Regions from separate parts of the Homo sapiens genome. Here all the other regions are linked to region 3. Evidence: fine-mapped expression QTL. A gene starts in region 3. Each other region holds a variant in brackets. All regions are shown on one strand. Distances are from middle to middle. Region 1 has its middle 25 kb from the start of LINC02278. Region 2 overlaps KLF3-AS1 (KLF3 antisense RNA 1). Region 3 holds the start of KLF3-AS1 (KLF3 antisense RNA 1). Region 4 has its middle 31 kb from the start of UGDH. Region 5 overlaps KLF3 (KLF transcription factor 3). Region 6 overlaps KLF3-AS1 (KLF3 antisense RNA 1). Region 7 has its middle 140 kb from the start of LINC02513.

The links.
Region 1: its variant is fine-mapped to the expression of KLF3-AS1 in tibial nerve (GTEx, PIP above 0.99).
Region 2: its variant is fine-mapped to the expression of KLF3-AS1 in esophagus muscle (GTEx, PIP 0.94). The same link has a PIP of 0.9 or more in pituitary.
Region 4: its variant is fine-mapped to the expression of KLF3-AS1 in liver (GTEx, PIP 0.98).
Region 5: its variant is fine-mapped to the expression of KLF3-AS1 in memory regulatory T cells (Schmiedel 2018, PIP 0.95). The same link has a PIP of 0.9 or more in Th2 cells, naive CD8 T cells and regulatory T cells.
Region 6: its variant is fine-mapped to the expression of KLF3-AS1 in whole blood (TOPMed, PIP above 0.99).
Region 7: its variant is fine-mapped to the expression of KLF3-AS1 in gastroesophageal junction (GTEx, PIP above 0.99).

The regions. Positions count from the first base shown.
Region 1 is chr4:38,587,266-38,591,332 of GRCh38, forward strand. No RefSeq gene overlaps it. Among named protein-coding and RNA genes, the nearest start is that of LINC02278, 25 kb to the left of the region's middle. The variant G/A (reference allele first, on the strand shown) is at 2,286.
Region 2 is chr4:38,628,156-38,632,222 of GRCh38, forward strand. KLF3-AS1 (KLF3 antisense RNA 1) reads right to left here. Exons shown (of 16, transcript NR_171644.1): 3 at 2,345-2,426. Among named protein-coding and RNA genes, the nearest start is that of KLF3, 34 kb to the right of the region's middle. The variant T/C (reference allele first, on the strand shown) is at 1,701.
Region 3 is chr4:38,662,863-38,666,929 of GRCh38, forward strand. It overlaps KLF3-AS1 (KLF3 antisense RNA 1), which reads right to left and starts at 2,031. Exons shown (of 16, transcript NR_171644.1): 1 at 1,932-2,031. KLF3 (KLF transcription factor 3) reads left to right here and starts at 1,337. Exons shown (of 6, transcript NM_016531.6): 1 at 1,337-1,599. RefSeq lists silencers at 238-757, 788-1,057, 1,068-1,667, 1,728-2,077, a promoter at 797-1,599 and an enhancer at 3,561-4,067.
Region 4 is chr4:39,494,094-39,498,160 of GRCh38, forward strand. No RefSeq gene overlaps it. Among named protein-coding and RNA genes, the nearest start is that of UGDH, 31 kb to the right of the region's middle. The variant G/A (reference allele first, on the strand shown) is at 1,594.
Region 5 is chr4:38,684,440-38,688,506 of GRCh38, forward strand. The region is part of intron 2 of KLF3 (KLF transcription factor 3); the gene reads left to right. Among named protein-coding and RNA genes, the nearest start is that of KLF3-AS1, 22 kb to the left of the region's middle. RefSeq lists enhancers at 2,774-2,943, 3,692-3,861 and cis regulatory regions at 2,859, 3,777. The variant CA/C (reference allele first, on the strand shown) is at 2,004.
Region 6 is chr4:38,595,771-38,599,837 of GRCh38, forward strand. It overlaps KLF3-AS1 (KLF3 antisense RNA 1), which reads right to left. Exons shown (of 16, transcript NR_171644.1): 16 at 3,323-4,067. Among named protein-coding and RNA genes, the nearest start is that of LINC02278, 34 kb to the left of the region's middle. The variant C/T (reference allele first, on the strand shown) is at 1,663.
Region 7 is chr4:38,222,916-38,226,982 of GRCh38, forward strand. No RefSeq gene overlaps it. Among named protein-coding and RNA genes, the nearest start is that of LINC02513, 140 kb to the right of the region's middle. The variant C/T (reference allele first, on the strand shown) is at 1,669.

The DNA of each region.
Region 1 (4,067 bases), 76 kb before region 3:
AATCTTTCAGCCAGGTCTGCTTTTGGTCCAGCTAACCACAGCCACCCACAGATTCCTGAGGATACTTTCAAGCTAAATGCAAACTCATTTTTCCTGAGCAGGCCTTCTACACAAAATCTTTCTCTGCTTTCCTACCCTGGTAAACTGGGCTGGGCCTTGAAGTAACTGTGGGACCCCACCACCACCTTCACTTCCATACTAGATCAGAGCCAGCCTCAGCAATCAACTTATGTGGGCTTTCTCCTGGATTCCACTCTGCTTTCACTCAAAGACCAAAAACCTCTACTCTACACACAATACCCCTTGCTCCAAAACTCAGCACCCAGAATGCCTCAGAGGAGGGAGAGTAAGTGAGGGACTTTCATAACCATTTCCCTTCATTCCTCCCCCAAATTTCTAGCTCCCAGGCAAGGAGAGGGGGTGGATAAGGCTTTGTTCTAAAAGAACCCCATTGAGTATTTGATGAATATCAGGGCCCCTCCCTCAGGAGGGTGGAAAGGAGAATGGAGAGTGGGTGGCCAACAGACAGTATTTCTCTTTTTCTGGCCAATAATCCAGAAAATGGATAATTCCCGCAAACATAATCAAGTTAGTATTCCATGTGTAATTTGGCAGTAGACTTGCTAGTCAACCAATGACTTAAATTGCATGTGGGATTTTTAAAGGAAAATTTACTTAGTCATTTTAATAAGAATATTCCTTGGAGAAAAATTTTTCAAAGAAAACCAATAAGGCTAAGGTCAAAATATTATCTCCAGGTCTGTGTCATATAAGCTGTCCAGAGTACATTATCTCCCCTTTGATCCAGCTACCTTACCCACACATCCACACATTCTCTCTCTCTCTCTCTCTCTCTCTTTCTCTGTCCCCCCTCTCTTTCTCTCTGTCTGCTATACACACAAATATACACACTCAACCATCTCAACCATACACATGCATCCATTCATATAGACACTCATGCACTTCCTCCTGGTATCTCCCAGTTACCCAGGAATTCTCCTGGCCCTTCTCCTGGATGTTGTCCTGCTCTTCATGTGCAGACACTTGCATAATGGCAGCAATGGAGTTGCTGAGGGCCAACCAAGTAGACTGTGGGTATCAGTCCCTATGCATAAGTTGGTTTCTCAGCTCCACCACTTAATATCTATGTGACTTCAGGCAAATTAACTTCTCTGAGCCTCTGTTTCTGTGTCTGAAATTGGCAAAGTAATACCTATCTCATGCTAAATATTGAGCAACAACTATGCAACCAGCATTGTTCTGGTGCTGGGGGTACAGCAATAAAAAGGATGAAATTCCTGCTCTTGGGAAGCTTATCTTCTAATGGGGAGGAAATGGGTCTCTACCAAAAAAAGATGATTTCAGATAAAAACTATTAAAAATAGAACACAATAATATGATAGAAATTTAAGGGGAAGATGTGGTAGGCAGCTTCAAAGATGGCCACTAATGATCCTCGCCTCCTGATATTCATCCCCTTGTGTGTTCCTCTTCATGTTGAGTGGGCTAACCCAGGTAACCAATAAGATGTAGCCACCATTGGCATCTATATCTACTTTGTGTTTAAAAATCAACTGGTAATTCTGAAACACTGTAGAATGGATAAAAATTATTTTGTGATCATAACTCTTTGTTGAACTAGAGTATTTTTGCAGCATTCCTTGTCATCAGAAACATGGTTAAAATTTAAAACTAGAAGCAGCAGAATAAGGCAATGGGAGGGTGTTATGTCCAAGGACAGGTCATGAAAGACATTGCAGCTACCAAATCACTCTCTTGGGTCACTCATTCTTGGGAAACGAACAGCCACGTTGAGAGAACACTCAAGTAATTTAACAGACAGTCCTAGGGTGAGGTGGTGATGAATGAAGCCTCTTGCCCATAGCCAGCACCAAGCTTGCCAATGGCCAGAGCCAACCTATCATGTTGAAAGTGATCGTCCAACCCTGGTCAAGGCTTCCGAAGACTGTAGCCTGCAGATTCATAAGAGACGTCAAGCCAGAACCACCCAGCCAAGTTGCTTCACAATCCCTGGCCCATAGAAACTATGAGATGATACATTTTATTATTGTTTTAAGCCATGAAGAGTTGAAGTAATTTGTTACACAGCAATAGATAATGTATACAGGGAGCTTTGGATTGGATGAGGGAAGGCTTCAGTAAGCTTCATTAAACTTGGGTTATTGTGAGGATTAACTAAAAAAGTAAAAAAAGTCCTTAGCAAAGGGTCAGGTTTTTAGTCCATGTGTAGTAAACCTCAGCTATTGTAATTTTTATGCTTTGTG[G/A]TAAGATTAATCTTCATCCAACACCCTCATATTGCAGATGAGGACCTTGGGACCTAGGAACTTCAGACATTTGCCCATATCCTACAAAGCAAGTATTGGCCAAGCTAAGCTGGAGGCTAGGTCTTCTAGGTTCTCCTAGGCCCTAAGCCACACTTCTTTCTTATTCTACACTCTGTTGCTTCCCTCCTTGCATGAAAAGCTGCTGGAACAAGAATCTGACAAATCTGCACAGAGATTCAGACTCCGCTGAGTCTGCTCCATGCCCGTAGACATGGAGACAGAGCAAGGGACAGAGAGAAGATGGATGTGGTATATGTGGGTCCCGCGACTCCACAGTTGCCCTCAAGGACTTCTTCAGAAGCCAATAGCCATGGCCAGGAGAACATTTCTGGATTTCCATGGAATGCTCTCTTCCTTGCTAATTGCTGTTAGGAGCTCAACAGCTGTTTTTAATATTTTGATGCTAATCTCCTGAAGGGCCATGGAGAGAAGGAAAGAGAGAAAGGCAGATTGTCTGCAAAGCCTAGGATCCCATCGGTACCTCAGCTCCAAAGAGTTTAGCACAGGCTGGTTCCCATGTGCTGCTGTCCTCATTCTTCCCTGGGGTCAAGGATGCAGCCAGCTTTCTTCTCTTGGTGGCCACCACACCCATTTTCTCCCTGGGCGTTCTGTCCTTCCCTCCACCCCTACGACCAGCTGTGGAGTTGTACGTGACCCATGCCCCTCCCTCCTTCCTTACATCCTCTCAAAGATGAGCTCACAGGCTCTGCTTGTTATAAGAGATTCATTGCTAGTCACTATAGAGAAACAGACAACAGACAATGAAAATAACTGAAGTGGGAAAAATTGCAAAACAGTAGAATCTTTTGATGTGACCATGCCACTCCCTTACTTAAAACCTCTGGGTTACTCTGTATCCCTACAGAGCAAATACAGAGATCTTCAAAGAGGCACAGAAAGTTCTTTGAGATCTTGCCTGAGTTCAAATCCTTACTCTGTGCTTGACAGCTGTGTGCCCATGAGCAAGTTATTTAATCTCTTTGTGCCTCATTTGCTTCTAATGTAAAAAGGTAATGATAATATAGGTTTGCTGTTAGAATTATTTAAATGAGTTAACATATAGAAAACCTTAGATCCACATCTGGCATATATCAAGTGTTCAATAAATGGCATCTATCCCAATGATGATGATGATGATGACACCCCTGCAAACTTACCCATTACTTCCTGCTTGAAAAGCCCTCACATATGTATCATGCTATTCATCACCTCCATGTTTTCTTGTTCTGTTTTCCTGTACCCAGACAGCCTTCACTTTCCCTCAAGCCTGGTTCACATCCAGGTCTATAGAGATGTGAAGTTTGCTACTCAAGCCAGCCTTCTTTGGAAAGCATTCAATGCCCATCCCATCATCACCACAGGCTGTCTCTGGGACCCCTCGTCTGTGCTCCTGTAGCATCCTATGTGTATCTCTATCATTATCTAAGAATATGTGTGTGTGTTTGAATGATCTATTAGCTGTGTCACAACCTACCCCAATACCTACTGGGTTCAGATGACAACCATTTTATTTGTTCACAATTCTATGGATCAAGAATTTAGGCAAGGCTTGGCTGGTCAGTTCTTCTGCCCCACAAGGCATTGGCTTAGGTTCATTCACTCAGCTGCATTCAGCTAGAGTCTAGGTCCATGAAGTGTTCACTCACATGCCCAGTGCCTCAGGTTCTTCTCACACTCTCACTCCATGTGGCTAGCTTGGGCTTCCTCACAGCATGGTGGCCT
Region 2 (4,067 bases), 35 kb before region 3:
CCAAAGATACCAGAAACTCCTTTACCCATTCCAACTCACCTTCCCTCCCTCTCTGGCACACACACAAGTGGGCACATACACAGGCATACACAGTCACAATATAATCAAGCTCCTACTATCTTCCTTTTTCAAGAAGACTACTTTGGGGCTGGAAATACTAAGGATGCTATTCTTTCTAGATGTTAGGCCAACAGGCTGCAAACCTGGAAAATCCCATGGCCAATATTCCTACTCTGAGCTAAGATGCAGTTGGGTCTAGAGAAAAAAAGAAATATTGGCTGGGCATGGTGTCTCACGCCTGTAATCCCAGCACTTTGGGAAGCCGAGACGGGCAGATCACCTGAAGTCGGGAGTTCGAAACCAGCCTGGCCAACACAGTGAAACCCCATCTCTACTAAAAATACAAAAATTAGCTGGGTGTAGTGGCGTGCGCCTGTAATCCCAGCTACTTGGGAGGCTGAGACAGGAGAATCACTTGAACCCACGAGGCGGAAGTTGCAGTGAGCTGAGATCATACCACTGCACTCTAGCCTGGGAGACAGAGTGAGACTCTATCTCAAAAAAAAAAAAAAGAAAGAAATATTTAGACAATTGCTTCTTCAAATGTCTTCTAGATCTTTGAGTTTATGGTGCTTGACCCTATTGATACTTAATTAGAACCTCCAATAAGAACTTGCAGGGGAGCACGATGCTGAAAGTGAAAATGACAGCTTCCCGTTGGACTATGTGCTGATTTACAGCAGTTCAGTCTCAGAAAAGGAAAACTACATAAAAATAGAAGATATAACAGTGAAATCAAAAAATTAAAACTTAGAATCTGCATATACTGAACTTTCATTGGCTGTCAAATTATATTAATCAACAATGTCAAGTTGAAAAAAAGCAAATGAAAAACAAATAAGGAACATTATTTGTACAAAGCATTGAGCTAGTCAAATTTTATCACTTTTTAGTTATATAAGTACAATATAATTGTGGTAAATAAAATTAGAAAATTTAGACAAGAACATAAAAAATAAAAATGCAGTTGACCCTTGAACAGCACAGGGATTCGGGGTACCTATCCCGCACAAATCCCGCAGTCAGAATTCTGTAGATAACTTTCAATTTCCCAAAAACTTAATTACTGCCAGCCTACTGCTGACCAGTAGCCTTACCAATAACATAAACCATCAATTAATACATATTTTGTATGTTATATGTATTACATGCTGTATTCTTACAATAAAGTAAGCTAGAGAAAATGAATTGTTACAAAGAAAATCATAAAGAAGAGAATATATATTTACTATTCATTCAGTGGCAATGGATCAACATAAAAGTCTTCATCTTTGGCCGAGTGTGGTGGCCCGCGCCTGTAATCCCAGCACTTTGGGAGGCCAAGGTGGGTGGATCACGAGGTCAGGAGTTTGAGACCAGCCTGGCCAACATGTCGAAACCCCATCTCTACTAAAAATACAAAAATTAGCTAGGTGTGGTGGCACGTGCCTGTAGTCCCAGCTACTCAGGAGGCTGAGGTTGCAGTGAGCCAAGACCACTTCATTGCACTCCAGCCTAGGAGATAGAGTGAGACTCCGCTCAAAAAATAAAATTAAAAAAACTCGTCATCTTCATAGTCTTGATGTTGAACAGGTTGAGGAAAAGGAAGAAGTGGGGTTGGTCTTGCTGCCTCAAGGGCAACAGAGGAGGAAGAAAATCCA[T/C]GCGTAAGTGGGCCTGCAGAGTTCAAGCCCATGTTGCTCAAGGGTCCACTGTACAGCCATTTTAATAACCAAAGTACTTTTCATTAAGTTACTGTAACAAAATGTATTTAACCAATTTCCTGTTATTGGACATTTATTTCTGATGTTTAACACAAATGCTTTAATGAACAGCTTTATACATACATCTCTGCATAATGTATCTCTCATTATTTTCTTATGATAAGCTCTTAGAAGTGGAATTTCTCAGTTGAACAGTATTCAGATGTTAAAAAGCAGAATTACAGCAATAGCCAAATTCAGTCATTTAAATTCTTTTTTAAGGTGCTTACAGCATCTTCAAACTTAGTAAGCATTCAAAAATTGAAAGAGAACAGTCTTTATTTTCATATCAAAGTCAATAATAACATTACATATATTTAATATATAACTTCAGAACTCTGACATTTCTTAAAACCTCACCAAATACTGACAGACAGTAATACCATATGGTTACAGACGCTTCTGAGAGAGCAAGACTGTTTCCAATTGCAATACAACAAATATGTTAACTGACTGGTTCATTTCTGAATTTAAAATGCTGAACAGAAAACCAATCACACCAAATATAGACAATATTTTTTAAAGTACACAACTGCACTACATACCATAGCAGGAGGACACAGGACTGAAACATGTATTTCTTTGTTTGGTCTATGGGCAAAGTCATCATCTCTCTGGATCTCAGTTCTGAGGGTAAAGACACAAGAGCTAGGGTTTCCAGACTTTTAGAATTAATAGACCAATTAAACTAAAAAAAAAAAAAATCAAGAAGGAACTAACAACTAATGCAGGGTTACCAAGGAAATAAAAACACAACACCACCACATACTAGCATATCATCCATAAATAACCTTAAAATGGGAGGAGGGCAACATACTCTCTGAATAAGAAACCATCATTAAATGTAATGCATTTATCCTGATTTTTATTTTTTTGTCTGCTCCATTGCTCATGTTTTTCTCATTTTGCCCTGGAGTGTGAAAACTGTGCCTCAGACTTGTACTAGTCCCCCAACTCTTGATTGAAAACAACCTCCCTAGATAACTTCTAAATCCTTTCCAGATTATAAAATGCTGTGTTTTGTGATTCCAAATTTTAATTTAGGTTCTATGTAAAGAAGTCATTTGCAAGGCCTTTTTTTTTTTTTTTTTTTGAAATGGAGTCTCACTCTGTCGCCCAGGCTGGAGTGCAGTGGCACGATCTCGGCTCACTGCAACCTCTGCCTCCCAGGTTCAAGCCATTCTCCTGCCTCAGCCTCCCGAGTAGATGGGACTACAGGCGCCTGCAACCACCCTCGGCTAATTTTTTGTATTTTTAGTACAGACGGGGTTTCACCATGTTAGCCAGGATGATCTCGATCTCCTGACCCCGTGATCGGCCCGCCTTGGCCTCCCAAAGTGCTGGGATTACAGGCGTGAGCCACCACACCCAGCCTTTGCAAGGACTTTTAAATTCAGTCTCTCTTACTTCTTTGAGGCTGCCAATGAGTGGATCCCATGAAGTGGGGATCGGGGGTGGATGCTTTCTGAGGGAGGGCCTCCTGGGGCCAGGCAGTGAGCCATGCATGCAATAAGGACACAGAGACACAAAGCACAGCCTCTGCCTTCAGGGGGCTGTCACCTAGGGAGCAACAGGAGACTAATACCCAGGAGGACACAAGTGATAGAACACACAAGGTACGCCTGGGGTACCTGGGAGCATTTAGGAGCAGCATTGTACCCAAACAGGTAGAGAAGGTGAGTGGGCCAGATCTTCTGGATAAGGTGACACTTACACTGAGGCTTGGCAGCTGAGGATGCCACTACAGGCCACGAGCATCCTTTGTAAAAGCGAAAGCGTGTCAGAAGTCATGGAGAATCCTGGCCGGGCGCGGTGGCTCATGCCTGTAATCCCAGCACTTTGGGAGGTCGGGGCAGGCGGATCACTTAAGGCTAGGAGTTCAAGACCAGCCTGACCAACATGGCAATACTCCGTCTCTACTAAAAAACTAGCTGGGTCTGGTGGCGCACACCTGTCCTCCCAGCTACTCGGGAGGCTGAGGCACAAGAATCACTTAAACCCGGGAGGAGGAGGTTGCAGTGAGCCGAGATCGCGCCACTGCACTCCAGCCTGGGCGACAGAGCACCTGGAGAACCCCACAACCTAGTGAGTTCCAGTGAGAACACAGTCTATGGGTTGGAGGGTTGCAGAAGATACTGAAGAGGCAGACACATTGCCAGATCAAGAAAACCTGCAGTGCCACATTCAGGAGTTTGGACTTGATCACCAAAACACTGGGATGTCACTGAACTATTTTAATCAGGGGAGGAGACTGAGGCACATCTCACA
Region 3 (4,067 bases):
GGGGCGGTTTTAAACATTACACAGAACTTAAAACAATCGAACGAATTCGTCCTTTGTTCTTTTTATTACATTAATTATTACATTAATACTGTTTAAAAAGAAACTCAAAAGGCATTAAACTTAGGTACCAATCTACACAAAGTCCTCGAAGGGGCCTGGCTTGGACCGAACGCGCTTTTGTGCCGCCCCGCTCGCTCGCAGCACCCTGAAGGCCACTGAGCTTAGGGCGCTAGGTCCCTAGAAGCGACTTGAAATGAGGGGGTCGCCAGGCCAGGCCCTCGCTCTGCAGGGGAGGATCCGACCAAAGTTTGCCAAGTTTCCAGGCAAGCCCAACTGCGCAAATGCCGCTTTTTAGCTCCAGCGGCAGGCCTGGCCCGTGGGAGTTTTGCCCCAGGGGTCTCCGGGCCTTCAAAGAAAAGTCCCACGAGGTGGGGGGCGCCGCCTGGGCCGCCGGCCAGGGGGACCCGTCGCCCCAGGGCACAAAGAAAGAGCGCGCCTACAGGGTGTCCCCTGACCCCGGCGACTCGGGGCCAGGGAGGCTCGGCGCGCCCCAGCGGCCGCTCTTCCCCTCCCGAACCCGCCCGGCCCACTCGCTCCTGCACCGCGGCCGCCTCGGCTCGGCTTTTCTCTTGCAGTGAGCTGAGTGCGCTCAGCCGAGGAGGGGCCGCGCCGCGCCGCGCCGGCCGCGGGGCCCAGCCCTTCCCGCCGCGCCCGGGGCCGCCCTTCCCGCTGGAGCCGGCTGATCGATGGCCCTGGCAGCCCGCGCCCCCCGCCTCGGCTCGCCCGCGAGCCCGGCTGTGTGTTTTGGAAGCAGCGCAGCGGGCCGCAGCCGTGTGACGCCCGGAGCGGGCAGCGCCGCCCTTCCTTCCCCCCGGGCTCGGGCGGCGGCGCGGCGGCTGGGCCGGGCGGGAGGGCTGGCGGGGCGCGGACTCCGGGGAGGAGGGCGCGGGGAGGGGACGCGGGCGGGGACGCGGGCGGGGGGCGGAGGCCGCGCCGCGCACGCCCAGCCCCACGGCCGCGCCGCGCCTCGTGGGACAGGTTGGGCCGGCGGGGCGGCGCCCGGCTCCGGGGAATAATGAGTGTCTGTCAGGCCGTCCCCGGGTGACTGGGCGGGGCGGGGCGGAGGCGGCGCGGGAGGCGGGGGTGGCGGGGGAAGGGCGCAGGGCGGGGTGCGTGTTTGCGCGAGTGACTCGGCCGACCCCTCCGGCGGCTGCCTCCACCCAAGTGGGTGGGGACCCGCCCAGCCCGGGCGGCCGCGGCGGCTCCCTCTCCCCTCCCTGACCCTCCCACCCCGGGTCCCAGCCTCTACTTACCCCGCCAGCCCCGGGAGGCTCGCAGAGCGAGCGGCGCCGGCGTCATGTGACTGCCCGGAGTTGGTGCCAGGAGCCAGAGGGGAGCCAGGAGCGGAGCCGCGCGGAGCCGGGGCCCGAGCCGGAGCGCAGCGAGAGCGCCCGCCGCACGCGCGCCCGTCCCCGTCCCCTGCGGCCGCCAACGCCGCCCGGACTGGAGCCCTGACATTGCTGCGCTCGGGGGGCTCCAGGCAGCCCGTATCGGGGCCTTTATTTCTCGTCGGCGGCGCCCTGCACCGCGCCTCGCAAAGTAAGTCCCGTCTCCCTCACCTCTGCTCCGCACCCTGGTCCCTGCCGCCCCCCTCCTCGGCCAGTCTGGTTTCATTTTTTCTCCTGGAGGGGGCCGCGGGGAATGGGTCGGGGGTGCAGCGCTGGTGTTGGGGGGGGCGCCTGCGGGCTTGGGAAAGTGTGGCGGCTACACTTAGCCGGGGTGGGGGCGGAGAGCAAGCAAGGAGGAGGGGGTCACGGGTTCGCGGTGAAAAGTGAGGGGTTGAGGCGAGGCACCGTGCGGACCCCGGGTGCGGGGGAGCGGGGCTGGCAGCGCCCGCCGCCGTCCCGGGCAGGGCGCGGGCGGGGGCTCACCTGTGTGGTCCCCGGCCTCCTCCCGCCCGCTCACGATTCCCTCCAAAGCCCCAGAAATCTCCGTGCTCTCCGCGTGTGGCAACGTTGTTTGGAGAAAGGTAGCGCCGCGGCCGCGCGCTCCTGCTCCTCCCCCTCCCGGTGCCCCCCCACCACCACCACAACCCAGGCTCCCGCGTCCTTCCCCTCCCCTCCCTCCGCCCGCGCCCCCCGCCGCCCCCCTCCCAGGACACGGCGCGCGGCCGCTCGCCCGCCACAGCAAACTTGGAGCAGTCTCCCGGCCCTCTGGAAAGAAACTTAGGGCAATTGGGATTGGAGGCAGCATCCCATTCTCGGTTCTGGAGCCCAGGAGCTGCCAGGGCGTCTGGATCCTCCGGGGCAGGAGAAATGAGCTGGTCGGGTTTGGAGAGTCTTCCTGGGGGCATGGAGAGAACCTGCCGCAGTGCCTGGAGCAAGGATTGCAGCGTGGCTGAAGGCGGAAGACGCCTTAGGCAACTGCCTGCAGCCGAGCCTGATGGGGACCCAGGGACAGATCCCTGGATCAGGACCCATGGGACCTACCTAACATTTCCAAGTGGCTTTCTTAGAGATGGCAGATGAGATCTGGAATTGTCATATTCATTTTTTTGGGCAGATAGCTACTGACAAGGAGAAGCACTTTTCTGGTTTAAATTTTATAGCAGTATACAATAATACTAGAAGAATGTGAATGAGACTTATTTTTAATAAGTCAAGTTAAACGGAAATTGGAAATTGCTCACCTTCTTGTATTTCACTAAAATAAACATTTTACACTTAACCACTGAATTTCTTACTCAGAATTTATGTTTCCATTAATATCACCCAAGACATTTTAAATATATTGATTATATTCTCACAAGAGTCTGGTATATGGGAAAAAGTATGAAGTGGTATTCTGACAAGTACCTGAAATGTGCCAGCAAAATCAAGTGGGGAATAGGCCAGTTGTTCATTATAGGTTTTTCCACACAGCAGTTTTGTGCTATCCTTTTCTGTACGAATTTGAGGAGCATTTTTATAAGAGAAATTCATCTGGATGATCTGCCTCACCCTAGGGAAGAAGACTTGCTTTTAGGGGAAAAAACAATCTGCTAGCATTAATATCTACAAATTTTTTGGAGTTAGTAATAGTGTTTAAGGAAAGTGTCCACGAGTGATTTCTTCTGGTTTGAAAAGAGGTATGTTAGTTGACCTTAGGCTGTTAATAGAAACCTGAAATTAGATGTTCGATTAAATTAAACTCCCTAGAGAAACTGGTATCTTCATTTCTGCAGTCAGTGGGCTTTGCTGCAGAACTATTTATTAGAAGAAAAAAACCTAATGTACTATCGGTAAGTTCAATGATGATACATTGTAAAGAACATTTAGCTTGCATGAAAGGGAATGCAAGTACAAAAATCTCAACATGGGAATAACAAAGAAAAGTAACTGCTTAGACCACAAAACCTTGTCAGGTACAAAACGACAACAGAGTTTTGCAGAAAGCTATTGTTTTATTCACTGCAAAGTTTCTAAATTAAAACCCAATCTTCTTGTTGCTATGGGCACAGTGATGCTCTTTTTTTCCTTTTTTTTTCTTTTTTTTTTTCCTTACCTGTACTTAGTCTGCACACACCACATTCTTAAATCTCTGATAACGTAAGCTTGAGTTAAACAGTCCTGGCTAACAAAGTAAAGAGAAATAATGGGAAAGGAACTGTGAATGGATTTTACTATCTTAAAAATAACCCAAAGGGAAAATAGACATTTTAGAATGACTTCTAGAAATTAGTACTCTGGTGTACAGATTGCATAATAATTTTTAGATAAATGTCAGGAACAGAATCACATTCTTAAAAGGCGAATTTCTATAAACGTGTGTATATGTTGAACAGATGAGCAGCTCTGCAAAGATGTGTATAACTGCATTTGAAAAAGACAGTGAAAATTTTGGGTTACTGTAGATGTCCCACAGTCTGTCTTGGAATTTAGTTCTGTGACTAAAGGAGGCTTACAGTTGCTCCAATTTTGGTTCTGTGGGGTACCCCAATTGTAATCTGAATTCCTAACAGCAGTGCTCTATCTTTTTTCCTCTTGATGCACTGAGGCTGAACCATAATCATTACCCTAACTCGGAAT
Region 4 (4,067 bases), 830 kb after region 3:
CCTGCCTTGACTTCCCAAAGTGCTGGGATTACAGGTGTTAGCCACTGCACCTGCCCTATTTCCTTATTTTTTGGGAAATAAAACTCCAATAGCCAACCTCCAAGATGGCTCCCAGTGATTATCACCTCCTGATATCCATGTCTCTTCAGACAGTGAATAGAGCTATCTGGTTAAACAATAGGATATTATAGAAATGATGGGGTATGATTTCTGAGGCTAGATAATAAAAGACATTGGAGGTTCTGTCTTGTCCTCTATTGGTTTTTTCACTCTTGAAGATGCCAACTTGCTATGCTGTGTCATGAGGATATTCAAGCAGTGCTATGAGGAGATCCAGTTGGCAAAGAACTGAGGCCTCCTGTCAACCGCCAGCACTAACTTGATAGTCATATGAGCAAGCCATCTTGGAAGACAATCTTCCAGCCCCAGTCAAGCCTTTTGATGACCAAAGCCCTGGTTGACATTTTGATTACAACCAGACTTTGACCCAGAACCATTTGGCTAAACTGTTCCTGAATTCCTGACCCACAGAAACTGAGATAACCCTGAAGTATTTAGGGGAAAAGGGAATCATGTCTCCAACTTACTCTCTTTTTTTTTTTTTTTTTTTTTTTTTATTGAGACAGAGTCTTGCTCTGTCACCCAGGCTAGAATGCAGTGGCACAATCTCAGCTCACTGCAACCTCTGCCTCCCGGGTTTGAATGATTCTCCTGCCTCAGTTTCCCAAGTAGCTGGGACTACAGGTGCGCACAACCATGCCCGGCTAATTTTTTGTATTTTTAGTAAAGATGAGGTTTTACCATGTTGTCCAGGTTGGTCTCAAACTCCTGACCTTAGCCTCCTAAAGTGCTGGGATTACAGGGATGAGCCACCGCACCTGGCCTTGCAACTTAATCTCAAATCATTCAGGAAAAAAATTTATATAAATATAAATTTTATGTGTGATGTATACAGGAAGGATAAAACAAAGCAAATATAATATTAATATTTAGTGAATAAGAAGGGTATACAGCATTTTTGTACCATTCTTTCAACTTTTCTGTAAATCTAAAATTATGTCAGAATTTAGGGTTTTCTTTTTTTAAAAACTAGCAACCTTTGATCTAGATCTACCCTTCACAGATATTTTGGTGTGTGTAGTGTAAAAATTTGTTTTTAAACATCGTGCCAACACTTATAAATTGAGAGATTTTATATAAAAATCCAGATTTTTACAAAAATTAGTCGGGCATGGTGGTGGGTGCCTGTAATCTCAGCTACTCAGGAGGCTGAAGCAGGAGAATAGCTTGAACCTGCGAGGTGAAGGTTGCAGTGAGCCAAGATTGCACCACTGCACTCCAGCCTGGGCAACAGAGATTCCGTCTCAAAAAACAAAAAACACCACACCACCAAATCCAGATTTTTAGCTTTTTCTTGAGAAATAGGAAGATAAGGCACCAGTGACAAGTACTGCATAACAAAGTATTGGCTTAAGTCTGCATGACAAGTATTGGCCTGATGCCTGGTTAATTCTTTGCATTTGAGAAGAATGACTTTTACCTGGGCACCTTTATGTATCCAGAGAAGCAGAATGACTAATATTAAAAGCTGGA[G/A]AGAAAAGTCACATAGTCTGTCCTGAATTCTGGTTCTGCCACTTATTAAGGTGTGACCCTGAGCAAGCTGCTAAATCTTCCGAGCCTTCTGCCTGTAGTCTGAATCACAGGATCAGAACTTACCTCAAAAGACTTAAATGAGTCCTAGAATAACATGGGGAAGTAAAAAATGAAATGAAATAAAGACTTATGTGAGGAACAGATGAGAAAATGCACCTAAAGGACTTTGCATAGTGCCTGTCCAAAATGTTCAGTGTTAATTACTGTCCTTCTAGTGATTCCAGAGCCTACACGTGGTTCTGGTGCAGTGGGACCAGCTTGTTATGGTGCTAACAGGAGTGCTCATTGCCTGCCAGTCACTGTGCCAAGAAGATCTTTGTGTAAACATTCATCTCATGTAATCTTTATAACAATTCTTCGAGTTGGAGATGGATTATCTGTTTTACAGATGGGAAAAATAAGGCTTTCAGGTAGCTTAGCCAAGAAGTCTTAAGTGGAATTGTAGGAGAGAAAATTGTAGGAGAGAGATTTTGTTTATCCTTTTGTATCTATGTGAATGTCTTTTTACCATGTCCATATATTATTTTCAATTTTTTTTTTTTTTTTTTTTGAGAAGGAGTTTCACTCTTGTTGCCCAGGTCGGAGTGCAATGGCATGATCTCGGCTCACCGTAATCTCCACCTCCCGGGTTCAAGCGATTCTCCTGTCTCAGCCCCCTGAGTAGCTGGGATTACAGGCATGCACCACTACACCCGGCTAATTTTGTATTTATAGTAGAGACGAGGTTTCTCCATGTTGGTCAGGCTGGTCTCGAACTCTTGACCTCAGGTGATCCACCCACCTCGGCCTCCCAAAGTGCTGGGATTACAGGCGTGAGCCACAGCGCCCGGCCTATTATTTTCAATTTTAAGTACAGTTAGTAATCTTACCAATATTCCTCTGCCCTACCAAAAATATATTAGCTAATAAAAAATTGAAACTTTTCCTGGTGGTAGGGATCAGGTATAAAAATTTAAATATATATATTTTTAAAAACTGAAAGTTTGTATGATTAAAAAAAACAACAATTGTCTTTAACTGGTTGAGGAGAGAAAAAAAGACTAACCACCTTCTTTCAACTTTTCACATGAAAGTCTCAAATTGCTGTTAAGTTACATGCCTAATTACTGAGTTTTTCCTCCCATTTCAAACAGCAAGTTTATCTGGCTCTATGAGCCCTCTTTTGCCCATTTTCCTCCATTTACCAGTAACTTTTTTCTTTTTTTTTTGAGACAGGGTCTCACTCTGTCATCCAGACTAGAGTGCAGTGGTACAATCTCGGCTCACTGCAGCCTTGACATCCTGGGCTCAAGTGATCTTCCCACCTCAGCCTCCCAGTTAGCTTGGACTACTGGCATGCACCACCACTCATGGCTAATTTTTTGTATTTTTTTAGAGACGAGGTTTCGCCATGTTGCCCAGGCTGGTCTTGAACTCCTGAGCTCAAGCATCCACCCACCTTGACCTCTCAAAGTGCCGGGATTACAGGCATGAGCCACCACACCCGGCCAGTAATTATATCTTACAATAATTGTTTACTTATCAGTTCCAGGCATTGAAACATCTTGCAATTTAAAACAAGTACCTATTTCTTTCTTTTCTTTTCTTTTCTTTTTTTTCTGAGACAGTTTCGCTCTTGTTGCCCAGGCTGGAGTGCAATGGCGCCATCTTGGCTCACTGCAACCTCTGCTCCCAGGTTCAAGTGATTCTCCTGCCTCAGCCTCCTGAGTAGCTGGGATTACAGGCGCGTGCCACTACGCCTGGCTAGTTTTTTTGTATTTTTAGTAGAGACGGGGTTTCACCATGTTGGCCAGGCTGGTCTCGAACTCCTAACCTCAGGTGATCCCCCACCTCAGCCTCCCAAAGTACAAGCATGAGCCACTGCACCCGGCACAAGTACCTATTTCTTTTTTTCTTCTTTTTGGAGCTCTTTCAAAGGATTTATTTGCTACAGAATTGCTTCAGTCCACCAATGAGATGAACTCAGGACTTCTTTGTTCAAAAGGATTTTGCTTATTGCTGTGTTTTTACAAATTCGGCAACATCCAAATAGCAATTCTTAGGCTGGGCACAGTGGCTTGAACCCCAGGAGGCAGAGGTTGCAGTGAGCCGAGATGGTGCCACTGCACTCCAGCCTGGCCAATAAAACAAGACTCTGTCTCAAAAAAAAAGAACAACAACAACAACAAAAGCAATTTTTTGCCAGCATTTGGCATATCTAGACAAGAGTAGAAAAAGTTTGAATCTATAGCATTAGATGTCTAAAAATAGAAAAAAAAACCATTTAAAAATTTAAAAATTCCTCATTTGGACAGGACAAGTGCCTAATTCTATCTGCTTTAGCATACATCTTCATACATCTTTGGACTTACAATGCCTTTACTAGAATATAAAATTACTAAGCAGAATACAATAATATTTTCAAGCAGAAATGT
Region 5 (4,067 bases), 22 kb after region 3:
ACTGTGCAGGGGTGTGAACATCTGAGTACATGTTACAGACGGAAATAACTCTTATAGCAGATCAGTGGTTTTGTGGAGGTTTTTTTGTTTTGGTTTTTTGTGTTTTTTTTTTTTTTTTTTTTGGTTTGGTTTTGGTTTTGAGACAAGGTATTGCCCTGTTGCCCAGGCTGGAATGCAGTAGCAAGATCACTGCAACCTCAAACGCCTGGGTTCAAGCAATCCTCCTCCCTCAGCCTCCCCAGTAGCTGGGACTACAAGCAAGCACCACCATGCCCCGCTACATTTTTGTTTTTTTCTGTAGAGACAGGATCTCATTATGTTGCCCAGGCTGGTCTCAAACTCTCGGCCTTAAGATATCCTCCTGCCTCAGCCTCTCCAAGTGCTGGAGTTAAAAGTGTGAGCCACCATGCCTGGCCCAGCCCATTGTTTTAAGCCCTTAAGATCCCTAGTGGGGGCCAGAGGCAGAAGCGGGAAAGACCCATGTCTGTGTCTTGTCTTTGGACTGCTCTGTTCCAGGACACAGGGTCTCTTGGACTAAGCAGCATGCACAGAGGGCACTGGAGGTCCATCCGTGGCCAGAGGCACATTTTTTGCTTCATCAACATTTGTCTCTGATTTGGATATGGGGCCAGTACAGCCGTGCTTGTATGCATTGCTTTGATAGAACATAGGAACTGTCTGGAACAGAGCGGGGAAGACTGTTACCAGGTTGTACCTGCCCAGAGCACACACCCTGCCGTGTCAGTCCCTACACGGCACCAGATTGTTGGAAGCTGATTGCAAAAGCTTGTGTGTGCCACCCAAATAAAGTGAACCAGCTTGAGGGACCACATGTCTTCACCCTTTTGTGAGGCAGTTGGGCTGGAAACAGTTAATTATCTGCCCAGAGTTGGGTGTCTGTGTCCAAATGTGTCTCTCCCCACAGTTAGTCTTGTACCTTACAATAATCGCACATCCAATAGAGGGAATGAGGGCATTCATTTGAGAACAGACTTATCAGCAAACTGCATAATGTTGATAAAGCTTAGCTTTATGTGTGGCTTTTTCTGTCTTAATGGCTTGAGAAACCTGAGAATATTATTAGATTTGCAAATCTGGAGGTTCTAAATTCCTACTCTCCCAAAACTCACCCCATGCATAGAAAAATCCAGCAATGACAGCAATAAAACTGTGTCCTCATTTTGCTTCCCATTTAGCTGCCAATAACTATTGGCATTAAAATCTAGGTCATAGGGAGGTCTTGGAAGAACAGGGCTGAAAATAAGGGAGAAGCTACATTTTCGTCAATAGAAACAATGCTGCCTCCCATTTCCTAAAGTTTTTTCCTAGTACCAGAACCATTGCCCTTTGGAGAATTATATAAAGCACATTAGACTTTAGGACTAGGCGAAATCATTCTCCTTCCTATATTTAATTACTCCCTGAAACCCTCCAGTGTACATGATTTATAATGGATTTATTTTGTTGTGTTGTTAATGAACCTTGTGCCTCTTTTAATAATACCCATCTTAATATTTAAATTTAAATCTATTTAATACTTAATGTTGCTATCTTTTGGATCTCTTGCGTTGGTACTGTGCGTGCCTGGCTTTAAAGAAAGGTAGAGAATCTTTTCTTCATTTGATCCTTGATCTATAACTCAAAGCTGTTTTTATGCATTTTGTGTTTTCTGATTTTATATCCTTCATGTTCTTGTTTTTAAGCAGTATTAGTAGTGAAAACTGGCTGCGCGTGGTGGCTCATGTCTGTAATCCTAGAACTTTGGGAGGTTGAGGCAGGCAGATCACTTGAGCCCAAGAGTACGAGACCAGCCTGGACAACATGACAAAACCCAGTCTCTACAAAAAAATACAAAAATTAGCGAGGCGTGGTGTCATGTGCCTGTAGTTCCACTTCCTCTGGAGGCTGAGTTGGGAGAATCATATGAGCCCAGGAGGTCGAGGCTGCAGTGAGCTATGATCATACCACTGCACTCCAGCCTGAGTAACAGTGAGACCCTATCT[CA/C]AAAAAAAAAAAAAAAAAAAGAAAAGAAAATTCTTTTTCCCTCCTTTAAATAGACCTTTAGTATCTTTATTTTTTATCTCTGTCATTTAGAGCATTGCTATTCAAAAGGTAGCCTAAGTTCCCTTGGTCCACTCCCCGGTAATTCAAAATTTGCATTTTAACGAGTGCTCCAGGGAGATGGATGTGCACAGTAAAGTTTGAGAAACTCTGGTTGGGAGCAGTAGAGCCCGTGACAGTGAGCATCTCTTGTATAAGCAGGGACAAGAAGGGATTTCCAGGATGGCATGTGTATAAGCTCGTTGTGTAGGTTATCCCATAACCTTGATCTTAACCATGAGGACCTGACATCCAAACCAGATAAAGATAAACACAGTTATGTGATAAAGTTTCACTGACTGACTCCTCCCTAACAGGCTGCTCTGCAGGCCTGGAGCAGGGACTGGGCATCTGGAATTTTAAAAACAACACAGATGATTCCAATGCATAACCAGCCGAGGATTCGCCCAGACCAAGCCCAGAGAGGAAAGAGGGTGATCTCAGTAGGAATCCCTATCAAAACCACTGCTGCCCCACAGTCATAACTCACAATAGTGGCCACCAGAGGGGCCAAGGAGACCCAGAAATTAATAGTGCATTTACGCTGTTTAATTACAAGGCACCATTGGGTTTTCTTGGTTGCATCCCAAGTTAGTATTGCCTCTAACTCTTAAACACATAGGGTTTTAGAGCTGGAAGAGAAGCACAATATGTTGTTTATCACTGTCACTGTCAGACATTCAAGTACAAAGAATTTTCTGCAGGTAAGCAGGCTTGACATGCAAAATTTCAGTTTCCCTAAAATGCCTAGTAAAGATGATGGTTTATGTTGAGTTTAATTTTTTTAAATTAAAAATTAGGTTGCATTCTACAAAGAAAATTTACAACAAAATGTTAGTTAAGGAATAGAAGTAATTTAGGTGAACTCCATGGTCAAGGATAGTGCCCATTGTGTGAAATTATGATGACTGGTTTGTATTTAAAGCTGGCAGATGAAAGTTAGGTTATCCTGATATTTAAAGAGAGAAAGGTGTTTGAAGATAAATGAGGTCAGTTGTGGACCAGATCTTGGGAAGGAAACAGACTCTTCTGTCTCTTCTGCACTCCCTTGTTTGTGCCCCAGCCTCATTTGATGAGTGGGTAGCAGGGTATAGAGGAGAGAACACAGGGCCTCAGCTTGTGTGAATGACTTTGAGCTCCACATTTCCTTATGTGAGTCATATCACGTTAGCTGTTTCTTATAGTTCCGTGTCATCCACAGACTTGCCATTCAAGTCTACAGCTTCATTCAGATTCTGAATAAGAACACTGAGCAAGTTAGGGCCAGGGACATCATTGCCGCAGTGAGGGTGGCCTTCAGTACAAAGGTGTGTATGGTGACTGACCCCCTCCTGGTTTGCCTGAGACTGTAGAGTTTCATGGGATGTGGGACTTTCAGTGCTGAAACTAGCACAGTTCCACGCTGACTAGGATTGTTGGCCAGTCCTAGGCATGGATTGTACAGCTGCTGAAGCCCATCAAATGAAAGGTACTGCCTATCCTGCAGCCCCATTCTTGCTTATTATACACAAGTATGATGAGAAATCAATGTCCTGCTGAAGTTGAAGACACTACTTATCCTGAGAAAGAGCTGTCCTGCCGAAGTTAGACATCAAAGCTAGAGAGCATTTCCTGCTCATCAAGAAACCCCACCAGAAAAGCAACCAGGTTGGTTTGGCTTGACTGGTTCTTGTGATGCCCACCTCTGACTCCTAATGATAATGGCCCCCAAGCCTGTGCTATCACCTGTCTTAGAATTTTGCCAGGTATCGGCCTTAATGTTTGACACAGGAATCATCTTAGGATTAAATTTCAGATTTTTCATCTGCAGTAGTGACCACATTGATCTTAGTTTTAATATTTTTGAGACCGCCTCTCATAGCATTTTTAATGTTGAGACCACCTCTTTGAGCATTTTTTTAAGGTCACATATATATCGAAATCTAAACTATTTTGTAAAGCCCATGTAATTGTTAAGTGCCTTGTTA
Region 6 (4,067 bases), 67 kb before region 3:
AAATATAAAATATTTCACATTTTTATAATGTTATTAATGATGCAAAAACTATTTTGCGCTTACCTTTGAAATTCTCATTAATAATATTTTGATGAGAGCTGTGTGATTGAATATGCTTCACTATTTAAACCTCTATGAATAAAAGGTCTGATTTTACATTCATTTCTTTTGGTGCTTGGTTTTTTTTGTTTTTGTTTTTTTTGTTTTTTGTTTTTGAGACAGTCTCACTGTCGCCAGGCCGGAATGCAGTGGTGTGATCTTGGCTCACTGCAACCTCCACCTCCCAAGTTCAAGCTATTCTCTTGCCTCAGCCTCCTGCGTAGCTGGGACTGCAGGCACGCACCACCACGCCCAGCTAATTTTTGTATTTTTAGTAGAGACGGGGTTTCACCATGTTGGCCAGGATGGTCTCTACCTCTTGACCTCTTGATCCACCCGCCTCAGCCTCCCAAAGTGCTGGGATTATAGGCGTGAGCCACCATGCCTGGCCTGGTGCTTGGTTTTAATAGTTATCAGACATGGAAAAGATACTTCCAAAATACTTTAATTAAAACAAGAAAAGAACTTTATTGCTTATCTCACTAAAGTATGATACTTGTTTTTCAACCCTATCCATCAATTAAAGTTTCCAATAAAAATTGGATAGTAAATTTTTATCTTCCCTAATGTCAACTACTTGTTAATACAAACTTTAAAAAAGTTGATTCAAAGTCCCCTAGAACTGTTTATTTATCATTTTTAAAAGGTTAAAAATTCCATTTCCAAGTATGTAGATACGAGAGTTTTTAAAGAGGCATATTCACTGCATTTTTGGCAATAAAAATACATAACTATTGGAGATTTCCCAAATATCCATTTTCAAAATGCTCTACTCATAGCATTAAACATGGTTACTTCCTCATTTATTGTTAAAAGATCACATTTATCTGAATAATTTCACAATTTTTTGGCCAAATTATTTTGTTCATGGCTTTCTCTGGTAATGTAACTAAAGAAGTACTTATATAAGGGGCTAGAAAAATGTCAGCCCTGCCCTTTCTTGTTGTTCAATTAAATTTGTATTATTAGGGAAATCTCCAGAATCAACCTCTTTTTAAAAATATTTTCATAATCACTTACTCATTAATGGAGATATTTGGTTAAACCTAGATTATATAAGACTTCCTGTTCTAGGAATGGAGAACTAGGTAATTCATACCATCCCACCTACTGAGGACAATCAGCAAAACAAAATATACTTTAAAAATCTACTCCGGTGTGCTAGAGAGCTAACAAGATAGTGCAGAATTACTGGGTTAGTATCAGGTAAAGGATAGAGACCAAGGGAGTTGAGTCCGGCATGTAGGGCAGTTTTCTCTACAGTATATGCCAATACGGTATATGCCAATTTCTTTTTTCTTTTCTTTTCTTTTTTTTTTTTTTTTGAGACAGGGTCTCACTCTGTTGCCCAGGCTGGAATGCAGTGGCACGATCTCGGCTCACTGTAATCTCTGCCTACCGGGTTCAAGTGACCCTCCTGCCTCAGCCTCCCAAGCAGCTGGGATTATAGGCATGCACTACCGCACCCGGCTAATTTTTTGTATTTTTAGTAGAGACAGCCACCATGTTGGCCAGGCTGGTCTCGAGCTCCTGACCTCAAGTGATCCACCCGCCTCAGCCTCC[C/T]AAAGTGCTGAGGTTACAGGTGTGAGTCACTGTGCCTAGAAGCATATGCCAATTTCTAAAAGCAGGACTGAGAGGCCAAGTGGCTGAGCGGGAAGGTGGTTAAAAAGTGTCTCACAGAGCTAAGGCCAATTTTGGGGCCCAGCATCACCAAGCCTGGATAGCTCTGGTGAATCTCTTTGCATTTGGATGGGCCACTGAAGGACAGTACCCTAAAAACAATGATAAACCAAAAGAAGGTTCTAGAAACTCAGTTTCACAGTACCTGGAATTGAATTAACATGATCCCATAATGCTAAGGCCCCAAGTACCTAGCAGAAGTAAATATAAATTCACTTTGGAGAATGACAACATCATTATAGAATTCTAATTATGTCTACAAATAATGTTTTAAGTACAAATATCTGAATACAATAAAAGAAAAACAGAAAAACAAGACAAGACCACACAAATGAAAACCAAGAAATCACAGACATAGATCACAAAGGCTCAGAAATTAGAGTTTTTCAACTTAAAAAAAAAAGTGTATTGACTTCAAATAATACTATATTTAATTTGCTCAGAGAGACAAAAGTCAACCTTGAGACTTTTGGCGGAGAACTGAAAACTAATTTTTTAAAAGAGCCAGTGAAAATGCTAGAATTAAAAAAATAACAATTAAAACACAATAGCTTTCACATTTAATTACAAACAGATGAAGAGAGAATTTGTAGTATGGAAGAAAATATCCATACTACAAAGCTAAAAGACAAAGCTAAAAAAAAATTATAAGAAGGTTAAGGAAGCTGGTAAAGCACTTTCCAAACTTAAAAAAAAATCCAAAATGTCATAAAATGATATCTTTGTAAAATGTAATTTAAATGAATTATTAGAACAATGAAATAATAAAAAGACACTGAATATATGCCCAAATTTTTATTGGATTCAAAGGACATAAAATTACTCTGCCAGTTGGTTTCAGAATATTTATTCTCAATTTTGTACTTCTCTTTTTCCAAATCATGACACTGATATAAAAGATCCATGAAAAGTTCTGATATATATTTAACTGAAATACTAAACGAAGAGAGGTAATGGAACAGAAACATCATTTACGAGTAATCAGCTGAATCATTTCTAAAACTAATTAAATACATCAATTGATGGATTCAGGAAATCAAAAACTAGTTAAATTTAAAAACAAAAAAATGAACGAAGAAATTATCTTCAACACAACCAGAGAAAAAGATTGCCATCAATGGAACAATAATCAGACTCACAGCTTATTCCTCAACAGCAACATTCTGAGCCAAAAGACAATGGAACAATAGCTCCAAAATGCTGAAAAAAAATTACTGCCAACCCTGAATTCTGCTCTCAAGATATAAATATATGTCAAGAATGAAAGTAAAAAGAGACATGTTCAGACAAACCAAAACTGGGAGAGTTCATCCCCAGTAGACTTGAATTTATTTATCTACGTATATATAAATCTGTCTTCAGGCAAAAGGAAAAGGTTTCAGGTAGAAAGTCAGAAATGCAGAAAGGCATGATAACTACAAATGAATATTGACTATATAAAACCAAAAGTAAAATCTTGTGGAGAATTATATAGAAAATTATAATACACTGAAAAAGCATTAAGTCAGGAGAGACAGAGTGATAGTGTTTTACAGTACATGCATTCCCCAGAAGAGAAAAAACAACCAAATGATATTTTATTTTTATGTCAGATATACATATTGCAATATTTGGTGTAATCACCACAAGAATTTATAGGACTCAAATAACTTTTAAAAATTTTCAATCAATGCAAATGAAGGCAAGAAATGAAAAAAATGGAACATAGAACAAGCAGTACAAATTGAAAAGCTGAGCAAAATGGTAGATTTAAACCCCAAAATATCACAAATTACATAACATGTAAATATTTAAATTCAGTGATTAAAAGACAAAGGTTGTTATCTCGAATAACACTGAATTTGATATGCTACTTACAAAACACAAGACTAAAATATCAGAATTCTCAAAGATTTAACAATAATGTCAAACTAGACACTAAGGTTAAAAGCATTCCTAAAGACAAAGAAAGTGACCTCATGATGATGAAAATTAGATTTGTCAAGAACATACAACAATTCTAAATTTACATGTAACTAATAGCATAGATTCAAATTTTATTACTCTCTCTGAGATCTAATAGAATAATAAGACAAAAATCAGTTTACATTTACAGGAGTATACATTTGTAAACTTGACTTAATCGGTCTTCATAGAATACTGCACCCAACATCTGCAGAATACACACTTAGTTCATACACCAAAATTACAAAATGCTGGGCCATTAAGCAAGTCTCAACAAATTTCAAGAACTGAAATCAGAGTATGTTACCTGACCACAGGGGAATTGAGCTAGAAATCAATAACAA
Region 7 (4,067 bases), 440 kb before region 3:
TACATAAGAATCCAATATTGAAAACTCTTAGATTTTACTTTGTTGGAAACAGGAGCCAATAATGTTTGTGGATCTGATGATTAGAAAGTCCTCTCAGGTCTTGGAAAACATGACCAGATCCTGTGCTTGTAGACTCATGTGTTTATGATACCTCTATTTGGTGCCACTCCCTGAAGTTGTACCCCAATCCCACCCACACCTCCTTTCTTAAAGGCAGTCTTTTCCACATGTTTTGAGGCCTGGAGAACAAAGGTGATGCGAGCTTAAAAAAAAATTAAACCAAAATTATTTCTCACCCAGTTACATGCTACAAACCAGCTTTCCTAGGTTTGCTCACACAAACTCCAAAAAAGTAATGGGGTAAGGGGAAGAGGTTTACAAGGTCAGAAGAAAACATCGAACCACATGAGACTTGATTCACTTCCATGGAACTGGTTTTGCTCCCCTGCTACAATATCCTGTAAAATTGTAAATAAAGCATTGGAACTAATAAATCAATCACAAAGGGACCTTCCTGCTGCCAACCCATCCTCTGGAGAATGAAATCCTGAGGGCAGATTTAGGGAATTGAAATCAGAATCTGTGCAGTTGCCAAAGTGCCCTGCCTTGGCCTGCCAAGTTAAATGTGAACTTTTGTGAACTTTCTTTGCAGCAGTTAGAATCAGCTTCTTTTGTGCAATGCAATTCCAATTTATGGCATTATTGAAGATAGGGTTTCAGGGAAATACACCAGGCCAGTGCATTTGTTTGGCCCATGAAGCTTAATTGCCAATGTTAAATCTATGGCCCTGGCAATCTTCTCTGATTAAAAAGCCACTGGGAGCCCAGTTTGGGGCCACTCTTCTTTATTACTGTTCTTCTGTAGAAAGTCGAAGTATTCATCCCATCGTGGGAGTTAAAAGCCCAAGTCAATTATTAATTGCATTTGTTTTCTTTCTGAATTAACCCATGTGACCCGTGGCATTTGCACCTTGTGTTAACCATTAGACACACAAATGAGCCCTGTATTTATTTGGGTGGCAGAGTTCTAATGCCTGTTGTTTACTTTATAGTGAGGGAACTGTGCAATCAGTAGGACTTTTCCAGGAAGAGAAACAGGGGTCCTGCCTTCCGTCCTCTGGTTTGAGGAAGCAGCTCTGTTTGCCTCTCTTTGCTCCCTTACTCAGGCTGCTCACAGCGAAGCCTTTCAGTGTCTGATATAAAAGTCCCTTTGATTGTGCGGTGGCCACAGGGTCTGGCTGTGGGTCTGGGTGGCTTGCAGGCGCATCACTAACCAAAACTAGATCCAGCAGAGGCGGCTTCACACTTCTCATGAATTCCGGCATCTTTTTTGTGTTAAAGATCTACTTTTCTTACAGCAAATATTATGTATGTTTTTACTCTTTGAACTCTTTCCATACTTAATGGAGGTGGAGGCGGGGCAGTTTGTAGATGTACTCTTGCCAAGTTATTAGTTTTAGATAAAGTCATCTCAGGTTTGAGCAAGAAAATGAAAGCCTCTGATTATCAGATTCTCTGGAACTTCTCTTCCTGCCAGAAACAATGTTGAGTCTGGCCCTCTCTCTCCCAGCTGCTTTCATTGTATTGCCTGAAATGGTATTTTTTAACTGTTTCTAATGCCAGTGAAACGAGGCATTAGAGGAGGAGAAGGGGAGTGGTTGGGTGGCA[C/T]GCTTAGTTCATAATTGTCTGGGTTAGGAAAGAATCTCTTAATGAGAATTGGATGGGGAATTAGGATCCTGTGGTGGGGGGCAGGGGTTTGTATTTGTGTGGGAAAGGAGTTAAAGACTTTGTTTTATTTCATTGCTTCAATTTGCTTTGGGTTGTTATTTAGTTTCTTTTGAGATTTACATAACATTAAATGAGGATGTGGCTTTTTAAAATGTTTTTTGAAAATGAGCCTGTCTTAATCCATTCAGGCTACTAGCATAGAATGCTATAAACTAGGTAGCTTATGAACATAGAAACTTATTTCTGACAGCTCTTGAGGCTGAGAAGTCAAAGATCATGTTTCCGGCAGGTTCCATGTCTGGTGAGGTTCTCCTTCCTGGTTCACAGATGGTTGTCCTTACGTGAGGGAAGGGTAATGGAGCTCTCTGGGGTCTATCTTTTATATGGGCACTAATCTCATTCATGAAGGCCCCATCCTCATGATCTCATCACCTTTCAAAAGACCCACCTTCAAATACAATCATGAAAGGAACAGGTTTCCACATATGACTTTTGGGGGAACACAAATATTCCGTCTATAGCATTCTGCCTCTAACCCCTCAAAATTCATGTTCTTCTCTCATGCAAAACACATTCATCTCATCCCAACAACCCCCAAAGTCTTAATTTGTTCCAGTATTACCTAAAAAATCTAAAGTCCAAAGTCTCGTCTAAATATCACTTAAATCAGATATGGGTAAGACTCATCCTGAGGTGAATTCCTCTCCAGCTGTGACCTGTGAACCCAAACAAGTCATGTGCTTTCAAAATACAATGGTGGGACAGGCACGGGATAGACATTCACACTGCAAAAGGGAGAAACAGGAAAGAAGAAGGGAGTGAAAGATCCCAGACAAGTCGAAAGCCCAGTGGAATAAATGACATTAAACTCTAAGGCTTGAGAACAACCTTCTGCCTTCTGGGTCCCCTGGGGCTGGGGTCCTGCCTCTGCACTTCTCACAGGTTGGAGTCCCATGTCTGTGGCTCTCCCAAAGAGGGAGGCTTTTATATATCCATCTTGTATGTATTCCTGGAATGCCAGATTCTTTTCTTTCTTTTTTTTCTTTTTTTGAGACAGAGTCTTGCTCTGTCCCCCAGGCTAGAAGGCTGGAGTGCAGTGGTGCAATCTTGGCTCACTGCAACTTCTGCCTCTCAGGTTCAAGCAATTCTCATGCCTCAGCCTCCCGAGTAGCTGGGATTACAGACATGCACCACTAGTCCTGGCTAAGTTTCATATTTTTAGTAGAGATGGGGCTTCACCAAGTTAGCCAGGGTGGTCTCAAACTCCTGACTTCAAATAATCTTCCTTGAATCACCTTGGCCTCCCAAACTGGGGTTACAGGTGTGATCCACCATGCCCAGCCTTGGAATGCCAGATTCTTATATCCAATTGCCTATTTGCCATCTTTCCCTGGATGTCTGGTAGGCATCTTAAACTTAATATATACAAACCAAACTCATGACCTTGCCCAGGGCAAATTGGATTCTCTCCTGTTTGTCCTATTTCAATAAATGGCAGATCCAGCTTCCAGTTGTTCAGGCCAATTACCTTAGCATCATCTTGATGCCTCTTTTTCTTTCAAACCCCACATACAATCCATCAGCTCTACCTTTATAATATATTCTGAATCCGACTCCTCATCTCTTCCCATCTCTGCCACTACTCTCCCACCTCCAGCCCCTGCCATCTTTGCCTGGACTATTGCAATAGTATCTGCCGGCTCTCCCTGCTGTGTTCTTGGCCTGCTCCCCATGTTCTCTTCTAAATAGCCAAAGGTTTTAAAAGGTCAGCCAAATCATGCCATCCCCTGCTCAAAACCTTCCAGTGGCTTCCAAAATCTCTCTGAATGCAACCAGAAGCTCTTTCTATTGCCTTGCAAACTGTACCTGATTTACCCACTTGCCTTCTTGATCTCATCTCCTATTCTCCCCTCCACTCTGACCTTTTTGCTGCTTTTTGTTTGTTTGTTTGTTTTGTTTTTGTTTTGTTTTTGAGACGGAGTCCCGCTCTGTCGCCCAGGCTGGAGTGCAGTGGAGCGATCTCAGCTCACTGCAACCTGTGCCTCCCGGGTTCAAGTGATTCTCATTCCTCAGCCTCCCAAGTAGCTCGGATTACAGGCGTGCACCATCACTCCTGGCTAATTTTTATATTTTTAGTAGAGACGAGGGTTTCACCATGTTGGCCAGGCTGGTCTCGAGCTTCTGACCTCAAGTGATCCACCCGCCTGGACCTCCCAATGTGCTGGGATTACAGGCATGAGCCACTGCACCCGGCCTCTTTGCTGTTTCTTAAACATGTTGGCTGTGCGTCTGCCTCAAGTCTCACATTATACTTTGTGTTCATCTTCCTGGAATATGCT